Regions from separate parts of the Homo sapiens genome. Here regions 1 and 2 are each linked to region 3. Evidence: fine-mapped expression QTL. A gene starts in region 3. Each other region holds a variant in brackets. All regions are shown on one strand. Distances are from middle to middle.

What was found. PIP is the estimated chance that this variant, and not a neighbour inherited with it, causes the effect.
Region 1: its variant is the best candidate, but not a certain one, in a credible set for the expression of COLCA1 in esophagus mucosa (GTEx, PIP 0.57).
Region 2: its variant is the best candidate, but not a certain one, in a credible set for the expression of COLCA1 in esophagus mucosa (GTEx, PIP 0.51).

The regions. Positions count from the first base shown.
Region 1 is chr11:111,389,534-111,393,776 of GRCh38, forward strand. It overlaps a transcript of BTG4 not described here. Among named protein-coding and RNA genes, the nearest start is that of POU2AF1, 12 kb to the left of the region's middle. The variant A/G (reference allele first, on the strand shown) is at 1,737.
Region 2 is chr11:111,816,135-111,820,377 of GRCh38, forward strand. The region is part of intron 13 of ALG9 (ALG9 alpha-1,2-mannosyltransferase); the gene reads right to left. Among named protein-coding and RNA genes, the nearest start is that of PPP2R1B, 52 kb to the left of the region's middle. The variant A/G (reference allele first, on the strand shown) is at 2,139.
Region 3 is chr11:111,303,033-111,307,275 of GRCh38, forward strand. COLCA1 (colorectal cancer associated 1) reads right to left here and starts at 2,016. Exons shown (of 2, transcript NR_169237.1): 1 at 1,796-2,016. It overlaps POU2AF3 (POU class 2 homeobox associating factor 3), which reads left to right. Exons shown (of 5, transcript NM_001271458.2): 3 at 1,896-1,950; 4 at 3,362-3,591.

The DNA of each region.
Region 1 (4,243 bases), 87 kb after region 3:
ATACCTGGGTATCCATGATCCGTGGTCCACCAAAGTGCACAATGCCCAGAATATAGAAAAGACTCTATAAATGGTAGCTAGTTCTGTTATTACTACTTTTTCATTAATAATGAATGTGACAGATTTTGACTTGAACCCAGTGTTGCTATCACTATCTGTGGGAGAAAATACTAATTTTCTTTTAGAAAAAGGTATAATAAATGTAACAGGTGCACAATAAATATAAACTGATCGGCATGAGTACGTTTTTCTTTTAAAAAAACTCTCTTAATTAATGTGTCCCACAACTAGACACAATCACACCATAAAAAAACAAAAGTGGAGGGAGGCAGAAGGAGATAAAACAACTCCAGGAGTTCCATGTGTGCCTTCCAGCTCACAAAGCCAACGAAAGCTAAGACTTCTGGAGCACTGATCATATAGCGAGGAACTGTTCTAAATACTTTACACATATTAGTTCATTTAATCTGCATAACAATGCTTTGAAGTATTAGCCTCATTTTACATATGAGGAAACACAGTGAGGTTAAGAAACTTGGCTAAAATGCACAGTTTATAAGTAGAAGAGCCAGGATTATAATCTGGGCAATCTGACTCCATAGCTTATAATCACCACATCACATTATTCCCCACAACATGCACACACACAAGAAAGTTAAGTCCCAAACAGCTGATCATTCATCCATCCATCCATTCATTCATTCATGCACTCATTCATTCAGCAAATATTTGCTGAATGTCATCCCACTGTCATCCAGTCTGTATTTGGCATTAAGGATGGAACAGTGAACAAGGAAAGTAAGTCTCCTGACTTCTTAGAGCTTACATTCCAGTGGAAGTGGGGAGAGGTAGAGGAGAGGCAGCCAGAACAAATATCTTCCCATCAGAACAAAGAAAGCAGTGGGTCATAAAGTATCTTTCAAAATCAACATCTTGGGCACATTCAGAAAAGCATTTCTAAAAACCCAGCTAAGGGATAAAGATAAAAACTATCAATGGCATCCAACCTAGATATTCTACATGCAACAAATTCAAGAAATATCAGTTGAACACCAGCCAATGCCCTCACAATAACAAAGTAAGAACTGAGCTCAGGGAGCCCTAAGCTCAGTCACACCACAGGAAGTGGGCACTAAGGCTCTGGTGGGCTTTCCACTCTGCGACAGAGACAGAAGGTTTTTTAAGAGTCCAACAGGACTCTGAGCATCTTGACTCTCCCTCTTTCTTCGAAGCCTTCCAGTCCCACTTGAACATCTCATGATGCAACTCAGACCATTTATCTTCCCAAAACAAGGCAACCATTTTGCACCAGTTGAGGCAGACTTCACAGGCAGATGCACAGACTCCAAAGCAAAGTTCCAGGCAGATTGCTAAGCTGACTCAGACCCACCTCCGATGGAGTTTGGATGGCCCAATTTATTAAATGATGCCAAGCCCTGGATTGCAGAAAATTTGGCAGACTTCTGGTGCAAGGAAGCACCTTAGGTTTCTTTCGTAACCAGCAAATTTGGCATAAAAACAGTAATAGAGTATGTGCTCGATAAAGTCTCATTGATTAATTGATAACAGTTCCTTTACTCTTTTTCAGGGGTAGACAACCATATAGACATCAGTGGCTGCATCTGAAGTTGGAGAGCAAGTTCTCCAGCCCAACTATGTTAACGGCAGTCATCAAGCCCCAGGGACCCTATTCAGGATGCTGGTTTTTGAAGACAATGGCCCCAGTTGCTGCGACA[A/G]ACTCCAAACTCATACTGTTCAGAGTCTTGAGTCTTGAGCCAACACACCCATTTTCTGTCGCTCCAAATTTTTTGTAGGTTTTGAAATACAGGCAGGAATTTAGCCAGGTTTATCTAGGAGAAATGTCACGTGAGGCTCAAGGAAGTGTAGAGTTTTGCCAAATGTTACATGAGAATCCTAGTCTTTTCTTTTTTTAGCCACTGGACTCAGGTTACGCAGAACCTAGAACCTCTGCTGGCCGGGACTTCTTCCTCCTCGCCATCCTACAGGCCTGGGCGGCACAGGCGGAGTTATGCCTGAGGCCTCTCACATTTCCAAGGATCACAAGCAGCTTGGAATTGTGTTCCATCTCTCTGGTCCTTGGAACTGTGTTCCAAGCTGCTTGTGATCCTTGGAAATGTGTTTCCAATTGTGTTCCATTTGTGTTCCTTTGGGAAAGTATGGGCAATAGGGAGCCATGGAAGGTTTTTCACTGAGGAGTGACGGGGTCATAGTCACGCTTCTTTTAAAAGTGGCTTTGGCAACAGTGTGAAGATAAATTAGAGTTAGGAGAAAGGGTGGGAGGTTAGAGAGAGTCTTTCTAACAATTGTTTCAGCAAGAATTAACTACGGTTGAAACTGGAGTGGTAACCACAGATGATCCCAAGCCACCTGGCTCTCATTGCGTTCCATTCTGAAAGCTTCGTGTCTCTGCATTCTCGGAATCAGTCACACAGTAAGCACTCAATAAATGTTTGCTGGATTAATGAAAAGTGAATAAATCTAGAGTGAGCCCTTCATTTTTAAAATGAGGAAATAGGACCAGAGAGATGAAATTACCTGCCTATGGTTACCTAGCTAGGCAAGGGCAAAGATAGACCTAGAACCTAGCCTCCAGCTTCCCTTTTCCTGTGATTTTCTTTTTTTTTTTTTTTTTTTTTTTTTTGAGACGGAGTCTTGCTCTGTCACCCAGGCTAGAGTGCAGCGGCACGATCTCGGCTCACTGCAAGCTCTGCCTCCCGGGTTCATGCCATTCTCCTGCCTCAGCCTCCCAAGTAGCTGGGACTACAGGCACCCACCACCATGCCCAGCTAATTTTTTGCATTCTTAGTAGAGATGGGGTTTCACCGTATTAGCCAGGATGGTCTTGATCTCCTGACCTTGTGATCAGCCCGCCTCGGCCTCCCAAAATGCTAGGATTACAGGCATGAGCCACCGTGGCTGGCCTCTAGTGATTTTCAAACTTTGTCATGCATCCAAATCACCATTCCCAGGGTTTCTGATTTGGTAGGTCCAGGACAGGGCCAGAGGACTTGCATTTCTAACAAATTCCGAGGTGATGCTGAGGCTGCCGGTCCAGGGATCACATGTGAGAACCACAGCCTTATCTAGTTCTCTTCTATAACACCTAGCTATCTTGCTCAGAAAGCAGGGCCTCACCTGGCTCCTTCATCCCTCACTGCTTGGCTCTGAGTTTTTGGGAGAATAGACATTCCAGCCTGCACAGTGGTAACATAGTTTGCTAGCTAAGAGCCCAGACCTGCGAGTCAAGTGCCTGGGTTTGATCCTGCCGCCACCAACCTTGTCTCCTCTGGGTATGTACATTATAGAATTCTTGTGAGGGTTAGATTATTGGATGTGTGTAAAACAGTACAACAGTGCCTGGCAAATAGTAAGCACCCAAAAGGGATAGCCATTCTTGCAATCACGGATAGGCTTGAGCCTGGGCCCTGAGGGGAGTCTTATGGTACTGCCTGAACTACAGAGAGGAGTGAGAATATGCCACAGAGTGATGACAGATTATACCATATCGTCACCTAGATTCATGAACATACAATACACATCAACAATGAGTGCAAAGATTGCTAGGAGGGATAGCACTGTGGGCTGATGCTATCTGGATCTCCCCCAAGTTTCCTCCAAATCCACTGTTATCATGGATCTCTTATTACTCTGAGTCAAGGAACCGGATTACTAAATCACAGTTTGTAAATTACGATGAGTCACTTTATCTAATCTAGACGGTCATATGCACTCACCTCTCAGAGGCTGTGATGTCAGCTTGGACAGATTAGAGCATCCAAAGCAAAGGGCAGCATTGAAACACCTGTTCCTTGCAGCCCTCCACACCCTCAGGCAGCAGCAGCAGCACCTGACTATGGTGCACAGAACCCACGGGTGCCTGAGAAGGACACACTGAAGACCGGTGGTAGCTGAGTTCAGGTCTCCAGGATGCTGGTTGCCCAAAGAACTGTATACTTTGAAATCTACTACTCTAGTCCCAAATACAGGATGCACCATCATGATTTCCTCTTTAGCCACTCTCAGGGTTGGGAACAGCTGGGAAGAGGTTGCAGAGAAAAGCCAGGAGGAAAAACTCCCCAGTTACTAAAGCAAAACCAGAGTGTTGAAGGTCTAGCATGAGGAGGAGAGGGAGATGCTCTAGGAGGGAAGGATGACTGACCAAGTGACATGACCTGTCCCCAAGCTCCACTTTATGCTGATTGAACTCTGGGAGCTCCACTAC
Region 2 (4,243 bases), 510 kb after region 3:
CTTTTGAGTATTGAATTTGTTGAATGTATTTGAAGGGTGATACAATTTGTCCTGACAGGCAATAAAATTGCAGATCAAAAAGCAAAAAAGGAATCTTCTAGGCATCCTCAAAGCATTTATTAAGTATCTATTTGGTGAATCCTAGAGTATATAAAATTACATATAAGTCATAACATGTCCTTGTTCTTTTCTTTTGCTCACTGCAGCCTCAACCTCCTGGGTTCAAGTGATCTTCCCAAGTAGTTGGCACTACGGGCATGCGCCACCAGGCCTAGTTAATTTATTTTTATTTTTTGTAGAGACGGGGGTCTTGCTATGCTGCCTAGGCTGGTCTTGAACTTACGGCCTCAAGCAATCTTCCTACCTCAGCTTCCCAAAGTGCTAGGATAACAGGCATGAGCCACCATGTCCAGCTGGCCATTCTTTCTTTCTTTCTTTTGGAGACAGGGTCTCAATCTGTTGCCCAAGCTGGAGTGCAATGATGTGATCATAACTCACTGCAGCCTCAACCTCTCAAGCTCAAGTGATCTTCCCAGCTCAGCTTCCCAAGTAGCTGGGACCACAGGCATGTGCCACCATGCCTGGCTAATTTTTAAATTTTTTAAAATAGAGACAAGGTTTCACTAACTTTTCGAGGTCAGTCTTGAATTCCTGGTCTCCAGTGATTCCTCCCGCCTTGGCCTCCAAAAGTTCTGGGTTACAGGCATGAGCAACCACACCCAGCCCCAAGTCATTCTTAAACTTATAATTTAGGTAAGGAAATGACATTAGCATATATGAAATGCAGAAAGTGTTATTAAAAATTCAGAGTTCAGAGAGGATGAGATCACTGGAGGCTACAGTAGTTGAAAAGACTTCCTAAAGTTGGTAATAAAAGTTAAAGAGAAAACAGAGGGAAAAAGACATAAAGGAGCATGGTTGACAGGGGGAAGAGGAAGAATATCTACCTGTCCCAAAAGGTGTTTGTTGAGAAACAAAACGAGAGTGAGACAGTCTGAGGACTGATAATGGAGGATCCAAAGGAAGAGAATCTGGATTTTATGCATCAGGAATCTATTCTAGGTTTTTCAGCCAAGGAGTAAGATGATAAAAAACAGGGTCTTAGAAAGAGAGGCCTATACTAGCTATGCTGCGGAGGATGAGGCAAGAAAGTGTTGGAGGAAAAAGCTGAAGTAAGCACTCTAGTTACTACTGTAATATTCAGTTGTGAAGTGATAATGCCTTCTGATATTTCTTTCTTTCTAGACAGGGACTCACTCAGTCACCCGGGCTGGAGTGTAGTAGTGCAAATCACAACTCACTGCAGTCTGTGAGCCAAGATCACGCCACTGCACTCCAGGCTGGGAGACAGAGCGAGACTCTGACTCAAAAAAAAATAAAAAACAAAACTCACTGCAGTCTCGACCTCCCCAGGCTCAAGTGATCCTACTACCTCAGCCTCCTAAGTAGCTGGGACAACAGGTGCACACCACCACGCCTGGCTAATTTTTTTTGTATTTTGTAGAGTCAGGGTTTCACCATGTTGCCCAGGCTGGTCTCGAACTCCTGGGCTTAAGTGATCCACCTGCCTCTACATCACCTTCTGATATTTCTATGGCAGTGGGAATGAAGAAAGAAGAAAGGACAAATCTCACTTGTATTTCTTTTTTTTTTTTTTTTTTGAGACAGATTTTGCTCTGTCGCCCAGGCTGGAGTGCAGTGGTGCGGTCTCGGCTCACTGCAACCTCCACCTCGCAGGTTCAAGCGATTCTCCCCTGCCTCAGCCTCCTGAGTAGCTGGGATTACAGGGGCCCGCCACCACGGCTGGCTAATTTTTATATTTTTAATAGAGACGGGATTTCACCATGTTGATCAGGCTGGTCTCAAACTCCTGACCTCAGGTGATCCGCCCACTTCGGCCTCCCAAAGTGCTGGGATTTCAGGCGTGAGCCACCACACCTGGCCCTCACTTCTATTTCAAATGAAACCAGTGACACCAAGATTTCTAATTCAGTGAACTAAGGCTGCAGTAAAGAATAGGTTTGGGTGACATTGAGGAAAGATGATAACTTGTGTCTTACACCTAATGAGGTGGGAAGAAGCATGGGGTACTCAAGTACAGTCATGCGTCACTTAACGAGGGAGACAGGTTTTGAGAA[A/G]TGTGTCTTAGATGATTTCATCATTATGTGAACATCATAGAGTGTATTTACACAGAGCTAGACAGTATAGCCTATGACACACCTAGGCTGTATGGTGTAGCCATAATAATCTTGTGGGACCACCATCAAACATGCAGTCTGCCCTAGATCAAAGTGTCACTGAGCAGCACACAACTGTAACTGAAAGAAGACCAATATGACTAAAATACTGAGTTAGAGAACTGTTTTCTGTTCCTACTCGTGGAACATTCCCTGTTGTCCCCTCATAAATTCCTACTCATCCTTCAGATTTCAGCTAAAAATGATTTCCTTAAGAAAGACTTCACTGACCTCTTAAACTAGGACAGGGCCTAAATTACATGCTCTTATAGCAACCAGTACTTCTCAAAACATTTTACAATTATATTCTATTAATTAATTGGGAAATTCATTGTAAGCTCCATAAAATCTGGGGCTGTGTCTATCTCATTCATTCTTCTATGCCAAAAACCTAGCACAGTACAAAACATACAGTAGGTCCTAAGTAAATGTCTACTTAACAAATACATGAAGAATGCATGAAAAAAAGGGAGAGGAAGTGAAGGAGGGAAGAAAAGGTAAAAGAGCAGAAGAGAGACAAAAAACAAACAGAGAGGGCCAAAGACCACAGATAAAGCTGAGAAGATGCCCGTAGCACTGGGCAGAAGAAAGAAGTGGAAGCAGCCAAGGATGAAGGGAACCAGAAGACAGGACATAGAAGAATCAAAGAAGTACACAGTTTTGAAAATCTGGGTGAAGAGTAGATTTCAAATGCTACAGAAACACTATGGGGATCTGAAGACTGAGAAAAGGCAACAGGAGGAATGGGTTCAATGGTTGTATCAAATAATTTTATCACAGTTTAGAATGCCATGTGGGGACAAGGAAAGAACTAATAGTCCAACCTCCTATTCTCAGTGACCTTCTCTGCTGTCTATCCAGCTGCCTGAGCCAAAGCCCCACAAGTCCTAAGACAGGAAGGATGTGAAGTTGCATTCAATCATCTATCAGCTGGAAATGACAATGACGCAAGTAGCTGTAAAAATAGAGATCTCTGGCAAGGGCCAACATGAGGTTCAGGGAACATCACAGAGAAACCATCTCCACACAGAAGACAGATCTTATTTCTCATATGTCACTGAAAATCCTCTGGTAAACAACTGTCATCATGAATCCTCTAAGAGTCCAAGGGGATAATGTGAAAGATCAATCTAAATCAACTGCCCTGTAAACTCCTAGGCAAGTGGGAGGATTAAAGCTGAAAAAACTGTTTAGACAGTTTGCCCACAGCTAAGTAAAATTTGGTCATAACTGAGACTATCCAGCAGCCACAATGGCTGACATATGTTATTAATTTAATACTTAGCTTTTAAGCAGCATTCAGAATGTCTTCCTTCCAAACACATAATAAATTCTGATTCATCACATCTCCTCAAATCCCTCTGTGAGCAACTGCAGCAAGGCCCAAGCCTTCTTATAGCTGAACCTTGTAAGCTCTGTGAAGGCAAGAACTGAATCTGTCTTTATAAGCACAATACACCTGGTGCCTGGTACAGTACCTGGCATATCTCAGGCAGTCAAAAAGTATTTGCGGAAGGAAAGAATGGTGACCAGCCACACCAGGATGCTGGACAACTTCCAACACCACGCTGTTCAAAACTATGACCAGCTTATTTGTAAGTGCCAAGAATTTCTTCCCTTAGCTTCTAGCCCCTGGAGGACAATCTATTTCCTCCATAATACCATACAATAAAGATCACATCATATCGTAATAAATCTACTAAACAAAATCAAGGTGCTGGTGTCTGGTAAGGGCCTTCTCACTGTGCCATCAAAATATATGACTCTATTCAGATCCATGACTGCATTCCTGCTATTGGGAAAGGGATTACAGAATCCAAAGGAAATAAACAGAAGAATCACACTTAAGAGCAACTGTCTTAGTCCAATCTGTGTTGCTATAACAGAATATCTGAGACAGGATAATTTATAAAGAAAAGAAATTTACTTCCTTACAGTTCTGGAGGCTGATGAGTACAAAATCAAGGTGCCGGCGCCTGGTAAGGGCCTTCTTACTGTGCCATCTC
Region 3 (4,243 bases):
TATCTTAATTTGTTATAAAGTCAGTGTAGTATCCACAATTTAAAATTTTAAGAAGGCAATCACGAATGGAAGTTATAGGTTGAGACAGACATTCAGTAAAGAATTCAAATATTCTTCAAGCAGTGCCGGAAGAAACTGTGTGTATGCCGGATTGGAACACTCGATTTTAAAAAACTTATTTCAGCCAGATCAATTTGCAAACATGCGCATGCACGCACACACACAGACACACACACACTTGCCTTTGGGGTAAAAGGAAACTTGAGTTAGTCGTTATCAAAAGATATCATTTACCTTTCTTTTTTTAAATCATTAATTTTTTAAACAGCCTTGATGTGTTTTTATAAATTGTAGACTGTGAATTTTTGTGCTGTTTGAAATCTAAGAGAGAGTTGCCTTTCTTTGTATTCTTGGAGCAAAGTAGAAAGTGAACCCATGACTAGAAAGATAATATCAAGTAGGATATTGTAAACACACCTCAGGGAGATAACATGGGGTGGAGGCAGACAAACAGGCCAATCCGGGGGAGGAATGGAGTTAAGGAAAGCTCTACAATGAGGCAGATTTTTTAATACCCACTCCTTCCAAGTCCTTCAGCTCAAGCTGCAGCCAAATATTTGCATAAAGAGCTGGTAAAGGATTCCAGCTTCCTGGTTCATGACATTACAGCATGGATCGTTTTCAAAATTAATACTGCCTCCTGTTTCAGCAGTGGCTGCCTGCACAGCTCTCCCTGTGGCTCAGAGTATGGGAGTGAGTATGCCCTGTAACCCAAAAGAGGTGTGGTGAGCTCGGCTTCCCAGCACAGAATCACAGAGCAATACGGGTACCTTTAAACTTTAAAGCCACACCTGAAATTTAAAAAAAAAAAAAAAATCCTAAATTACTCAGTATAATTATTAATTCAACTGAAAAATGCAGGCTGCTTTACTTTGAATAGTTAAAAAGAGCAGTCTCATAAACTTTTAAGTATTTAAATACAGTAGTTTAAATAAAAGCAACTTTTATAGATAGTAGTACAAAACATACAAAGTACTGGAATAATTCCCGACCATTAACTAGAATGAAAGTAGGTTCCAACTCACCAACCACAGCTTTAAGAAAATATTTTCTATTTTAATATTTCATGTATACTAAGAACATGTGAATATTTTTAGCTACTCAGAATTAACAAAATTAAGAATTGTGTTCTTTGGGGAAACGACTCCCTAAGGCTAAGTAGCCAGATGGTATATGAAATTTTTGAGAAAAATAATTGACTAAGCCATAGATAGTTGAGATTAAATAAATGTTAGTCCTTAATAATTTTAAATCGAATAGTTTAATAGGAAGCCTTTTGCTGCATTTTCTCAAACTGTTACATTTTTACCACATAAAATTATTTACATTAATTTTTTACTAAAAATTAATCACTTTTAAAATTTAAGTAGAAGAATCTGATATTAGGAAAAAAACTCCCCAAGCAAGCAAACATAAATATTGGATCTAGATAAAACATAATATTGGTTGTATTTAAGAAGTCTGTTTTATGATTCGATTTCAGGTTTTCATTGTTCCAATGCAATTTTCCAGATTGAATCTTAAAAGGATTATAAACGTCAAAAGGCATTTTAAATTCTACACGGACTTAATACACCTACCGCAATTCTATGCACCTGTCTTTCAAATTCTATAAAATATTTGTTGACACTTTCCCTTTCACTTGTTTTTTACAATATATTTTGTACAAAAATTTGTCAAACATTGAAAAAAAAAAAGAAAGCAACTTTTTCTGAGAAGGAAGAATCTGGCTTACCTTATAGCAGAAAGAAACATAGTCCTCATCAAAATGTCTTAGCTTTCCCTTCAGAGCATTTCTTTCAGCCTGCTTCACGGTGATATTCTTGCTTTGACAGCGGTCCGGAGGCAGCAGTGTCCACCTTTCAGACCCAGTTGCACCATCTTCTGCAGGTCAGTACAGCCAGCATTAACAGTTCCCTCAAACACTCTTTCAAAAGTCCATCTCAAAAGTCTTTCAGTCTTGATTCAGGGGTTAAGATAGGCACCACCATTTAATTGGAATCCAACCAATCAGAAGGTGAAAAAGGCATAGTCACTCCACATGCAAGCCCAGCAAGAAAACAAGCATAAATGTTGTCTTCATTTCTGAATTCTCTACTCTCTGCTATATTGTCTCAAGAGTTTGTTCTTCACATTTATTCCAGTTCCTCATCGCCAAGTAACTAAACTGAACTACAAAATCAGAATTGTTCTCAGGAACTTATCTTTTTTTAGTGCACTGTTAGATGGAATACAGAACATCCCAAGACACTCAAATAATGCCTTTGCTCTGTTCCTTTAGTTTCCAGCCGACAGGGGCTTCCCTCCCCTTCTCTGTTCCCAGAAAGCAGTTCAAACAAGTGTAGGTTTTCTCAGCCCAATAAGAATAACTCGATTACATAAACACTCCTACCTCTGCTACTCAACAGCTAAGAGTTTAAGGAGGTCGTATATAAGGAAACCTCTGCCTATGGCCTCTCCCCACTAAATGTGTCACCGTAGCTTCACCTTAAAGGAACTTGAGACCTCAAGAAGAACACAGTGTCCTTTAGTCCCTTTGATGAGCACACTCTAATCCTCTCTTCTTCCAGCATTTACAGATAATTATCACAAATTGGGCCTATTAATAATAAAATGGAAAAGGAGTAATGTTTACTGATTATCTTTGTTTGATGTTTAACAACTTACTTTGATCACATCATGATGTTAACATGTTCACTGAGAAAACATTTTTGCTTTTTGTACTTCCGAGCCAATAGTGTTAATTGGTACTCTATGTTCCTGGTTTCCATGATTATCATTTGCATTCTCATTTAAATCACTTCTCAAAATTCTCTCCTCCAAACTTAAGTTACTGAGTAAGAGTGAAAAGTTCAAAAAAGCAATCACCATAAGTCAAAAGAATTATTTCCCGTAGCATCAGAAGTTTTCTCAAAGCCTCAACAACTTTGTCAGTTACTTCTGAGAGGTTTACGTGAACTGCCGGTAGGGGCTGGATGTCCATGGTTTTACAGCCCAAGAAAGGGGAAGTTTGAGCCATTATTTGACTGTGACACTTGGACACAAATTGGGTCACCATCCTTTTATTTTTGCCCTAACCAGTTTTACAGCCAGTTTCCACATTATTAACCATGTTCATTTCCCTGGAGCTTGAATTAGCTAGGACAACTAAAGAGTCAAAATTGCATTCCCGTTTACTTTTCTGGATTTGTTAAGCCCCCTTTCCCCCTAGACATAGTAAATATTCAGAGTATAGATCTCCATTCAAATCTGTGTTTTGCAATTTTTATGCAAAAACCTGCCTTTTTCCTTTCTCCTCTAGGACTGTATTTTGAGCCTGAACCAATTTCTTCCACGCCCAATTATTTGCAACGGGGAGAATTTTCCAGTTGTGTTTCATGTGAAGAAAACTCAAGCTGCCTCGACCAGATCTTTGATTCCTACCTTCAGACAGAGATGCACCCGGAGCCTTTGCTCAATTCCACACAAAGTGCTCCACACCATTTCCCAGACAGCTTCCAGGCCACCCCTTTCTGCTTTAACCAGAGCCTGGTAATTTTTCTCAGTTCTTTATATACCTGATTGTGTCTAACTATGGGGTAATAGTGCTTTGTGAGTTTGCACCATCCCGTGGGAAATCATACAAAAACTATCAGCAAGGAAATCATCCAAGGAAACAAGCAGAGAAGAATTTAAAAGTCAATGTATAGAAGTAGCCACACACTGCAGGGCATAAACCTTTGGATACACACGTAATTTAGATTTCCCAAGATTTAGATTTTTCGGCCACCAAGTAAGTTGGTGGGTAGCAATAAAAAGAGGTTCCTGGCAATATTCATTTAATGTTTTTTAAACTGTAAAGTCAAGAGACCTACTAATTGGAAGTCAGTGGTTTAAACAATGGCTCTTGGATTTTTTGATGGAATTTTGAGTTCTTGGAAATGGAATTAAGGCTGTGTATATATGGTAACAAACTTCATTTCATTAGGGGGAGGTTTTGCTTTGTTTTGTCATTGAACTGGCTCTACTAACTGATAGTTTGAGTCTGCTATAAGCACAATAACTCATTTGGGTCTGAGATGGTTAGTAAAAATGAAGCCGTAATCTTTGAAAAAAATTAAATTGGTTGTTCTCGGTGGATCTCAAATGTTTGAAAATGTGTTATCCTTCAAAATGAAGTAAGGTTTCTATTAGTGGAAACTAG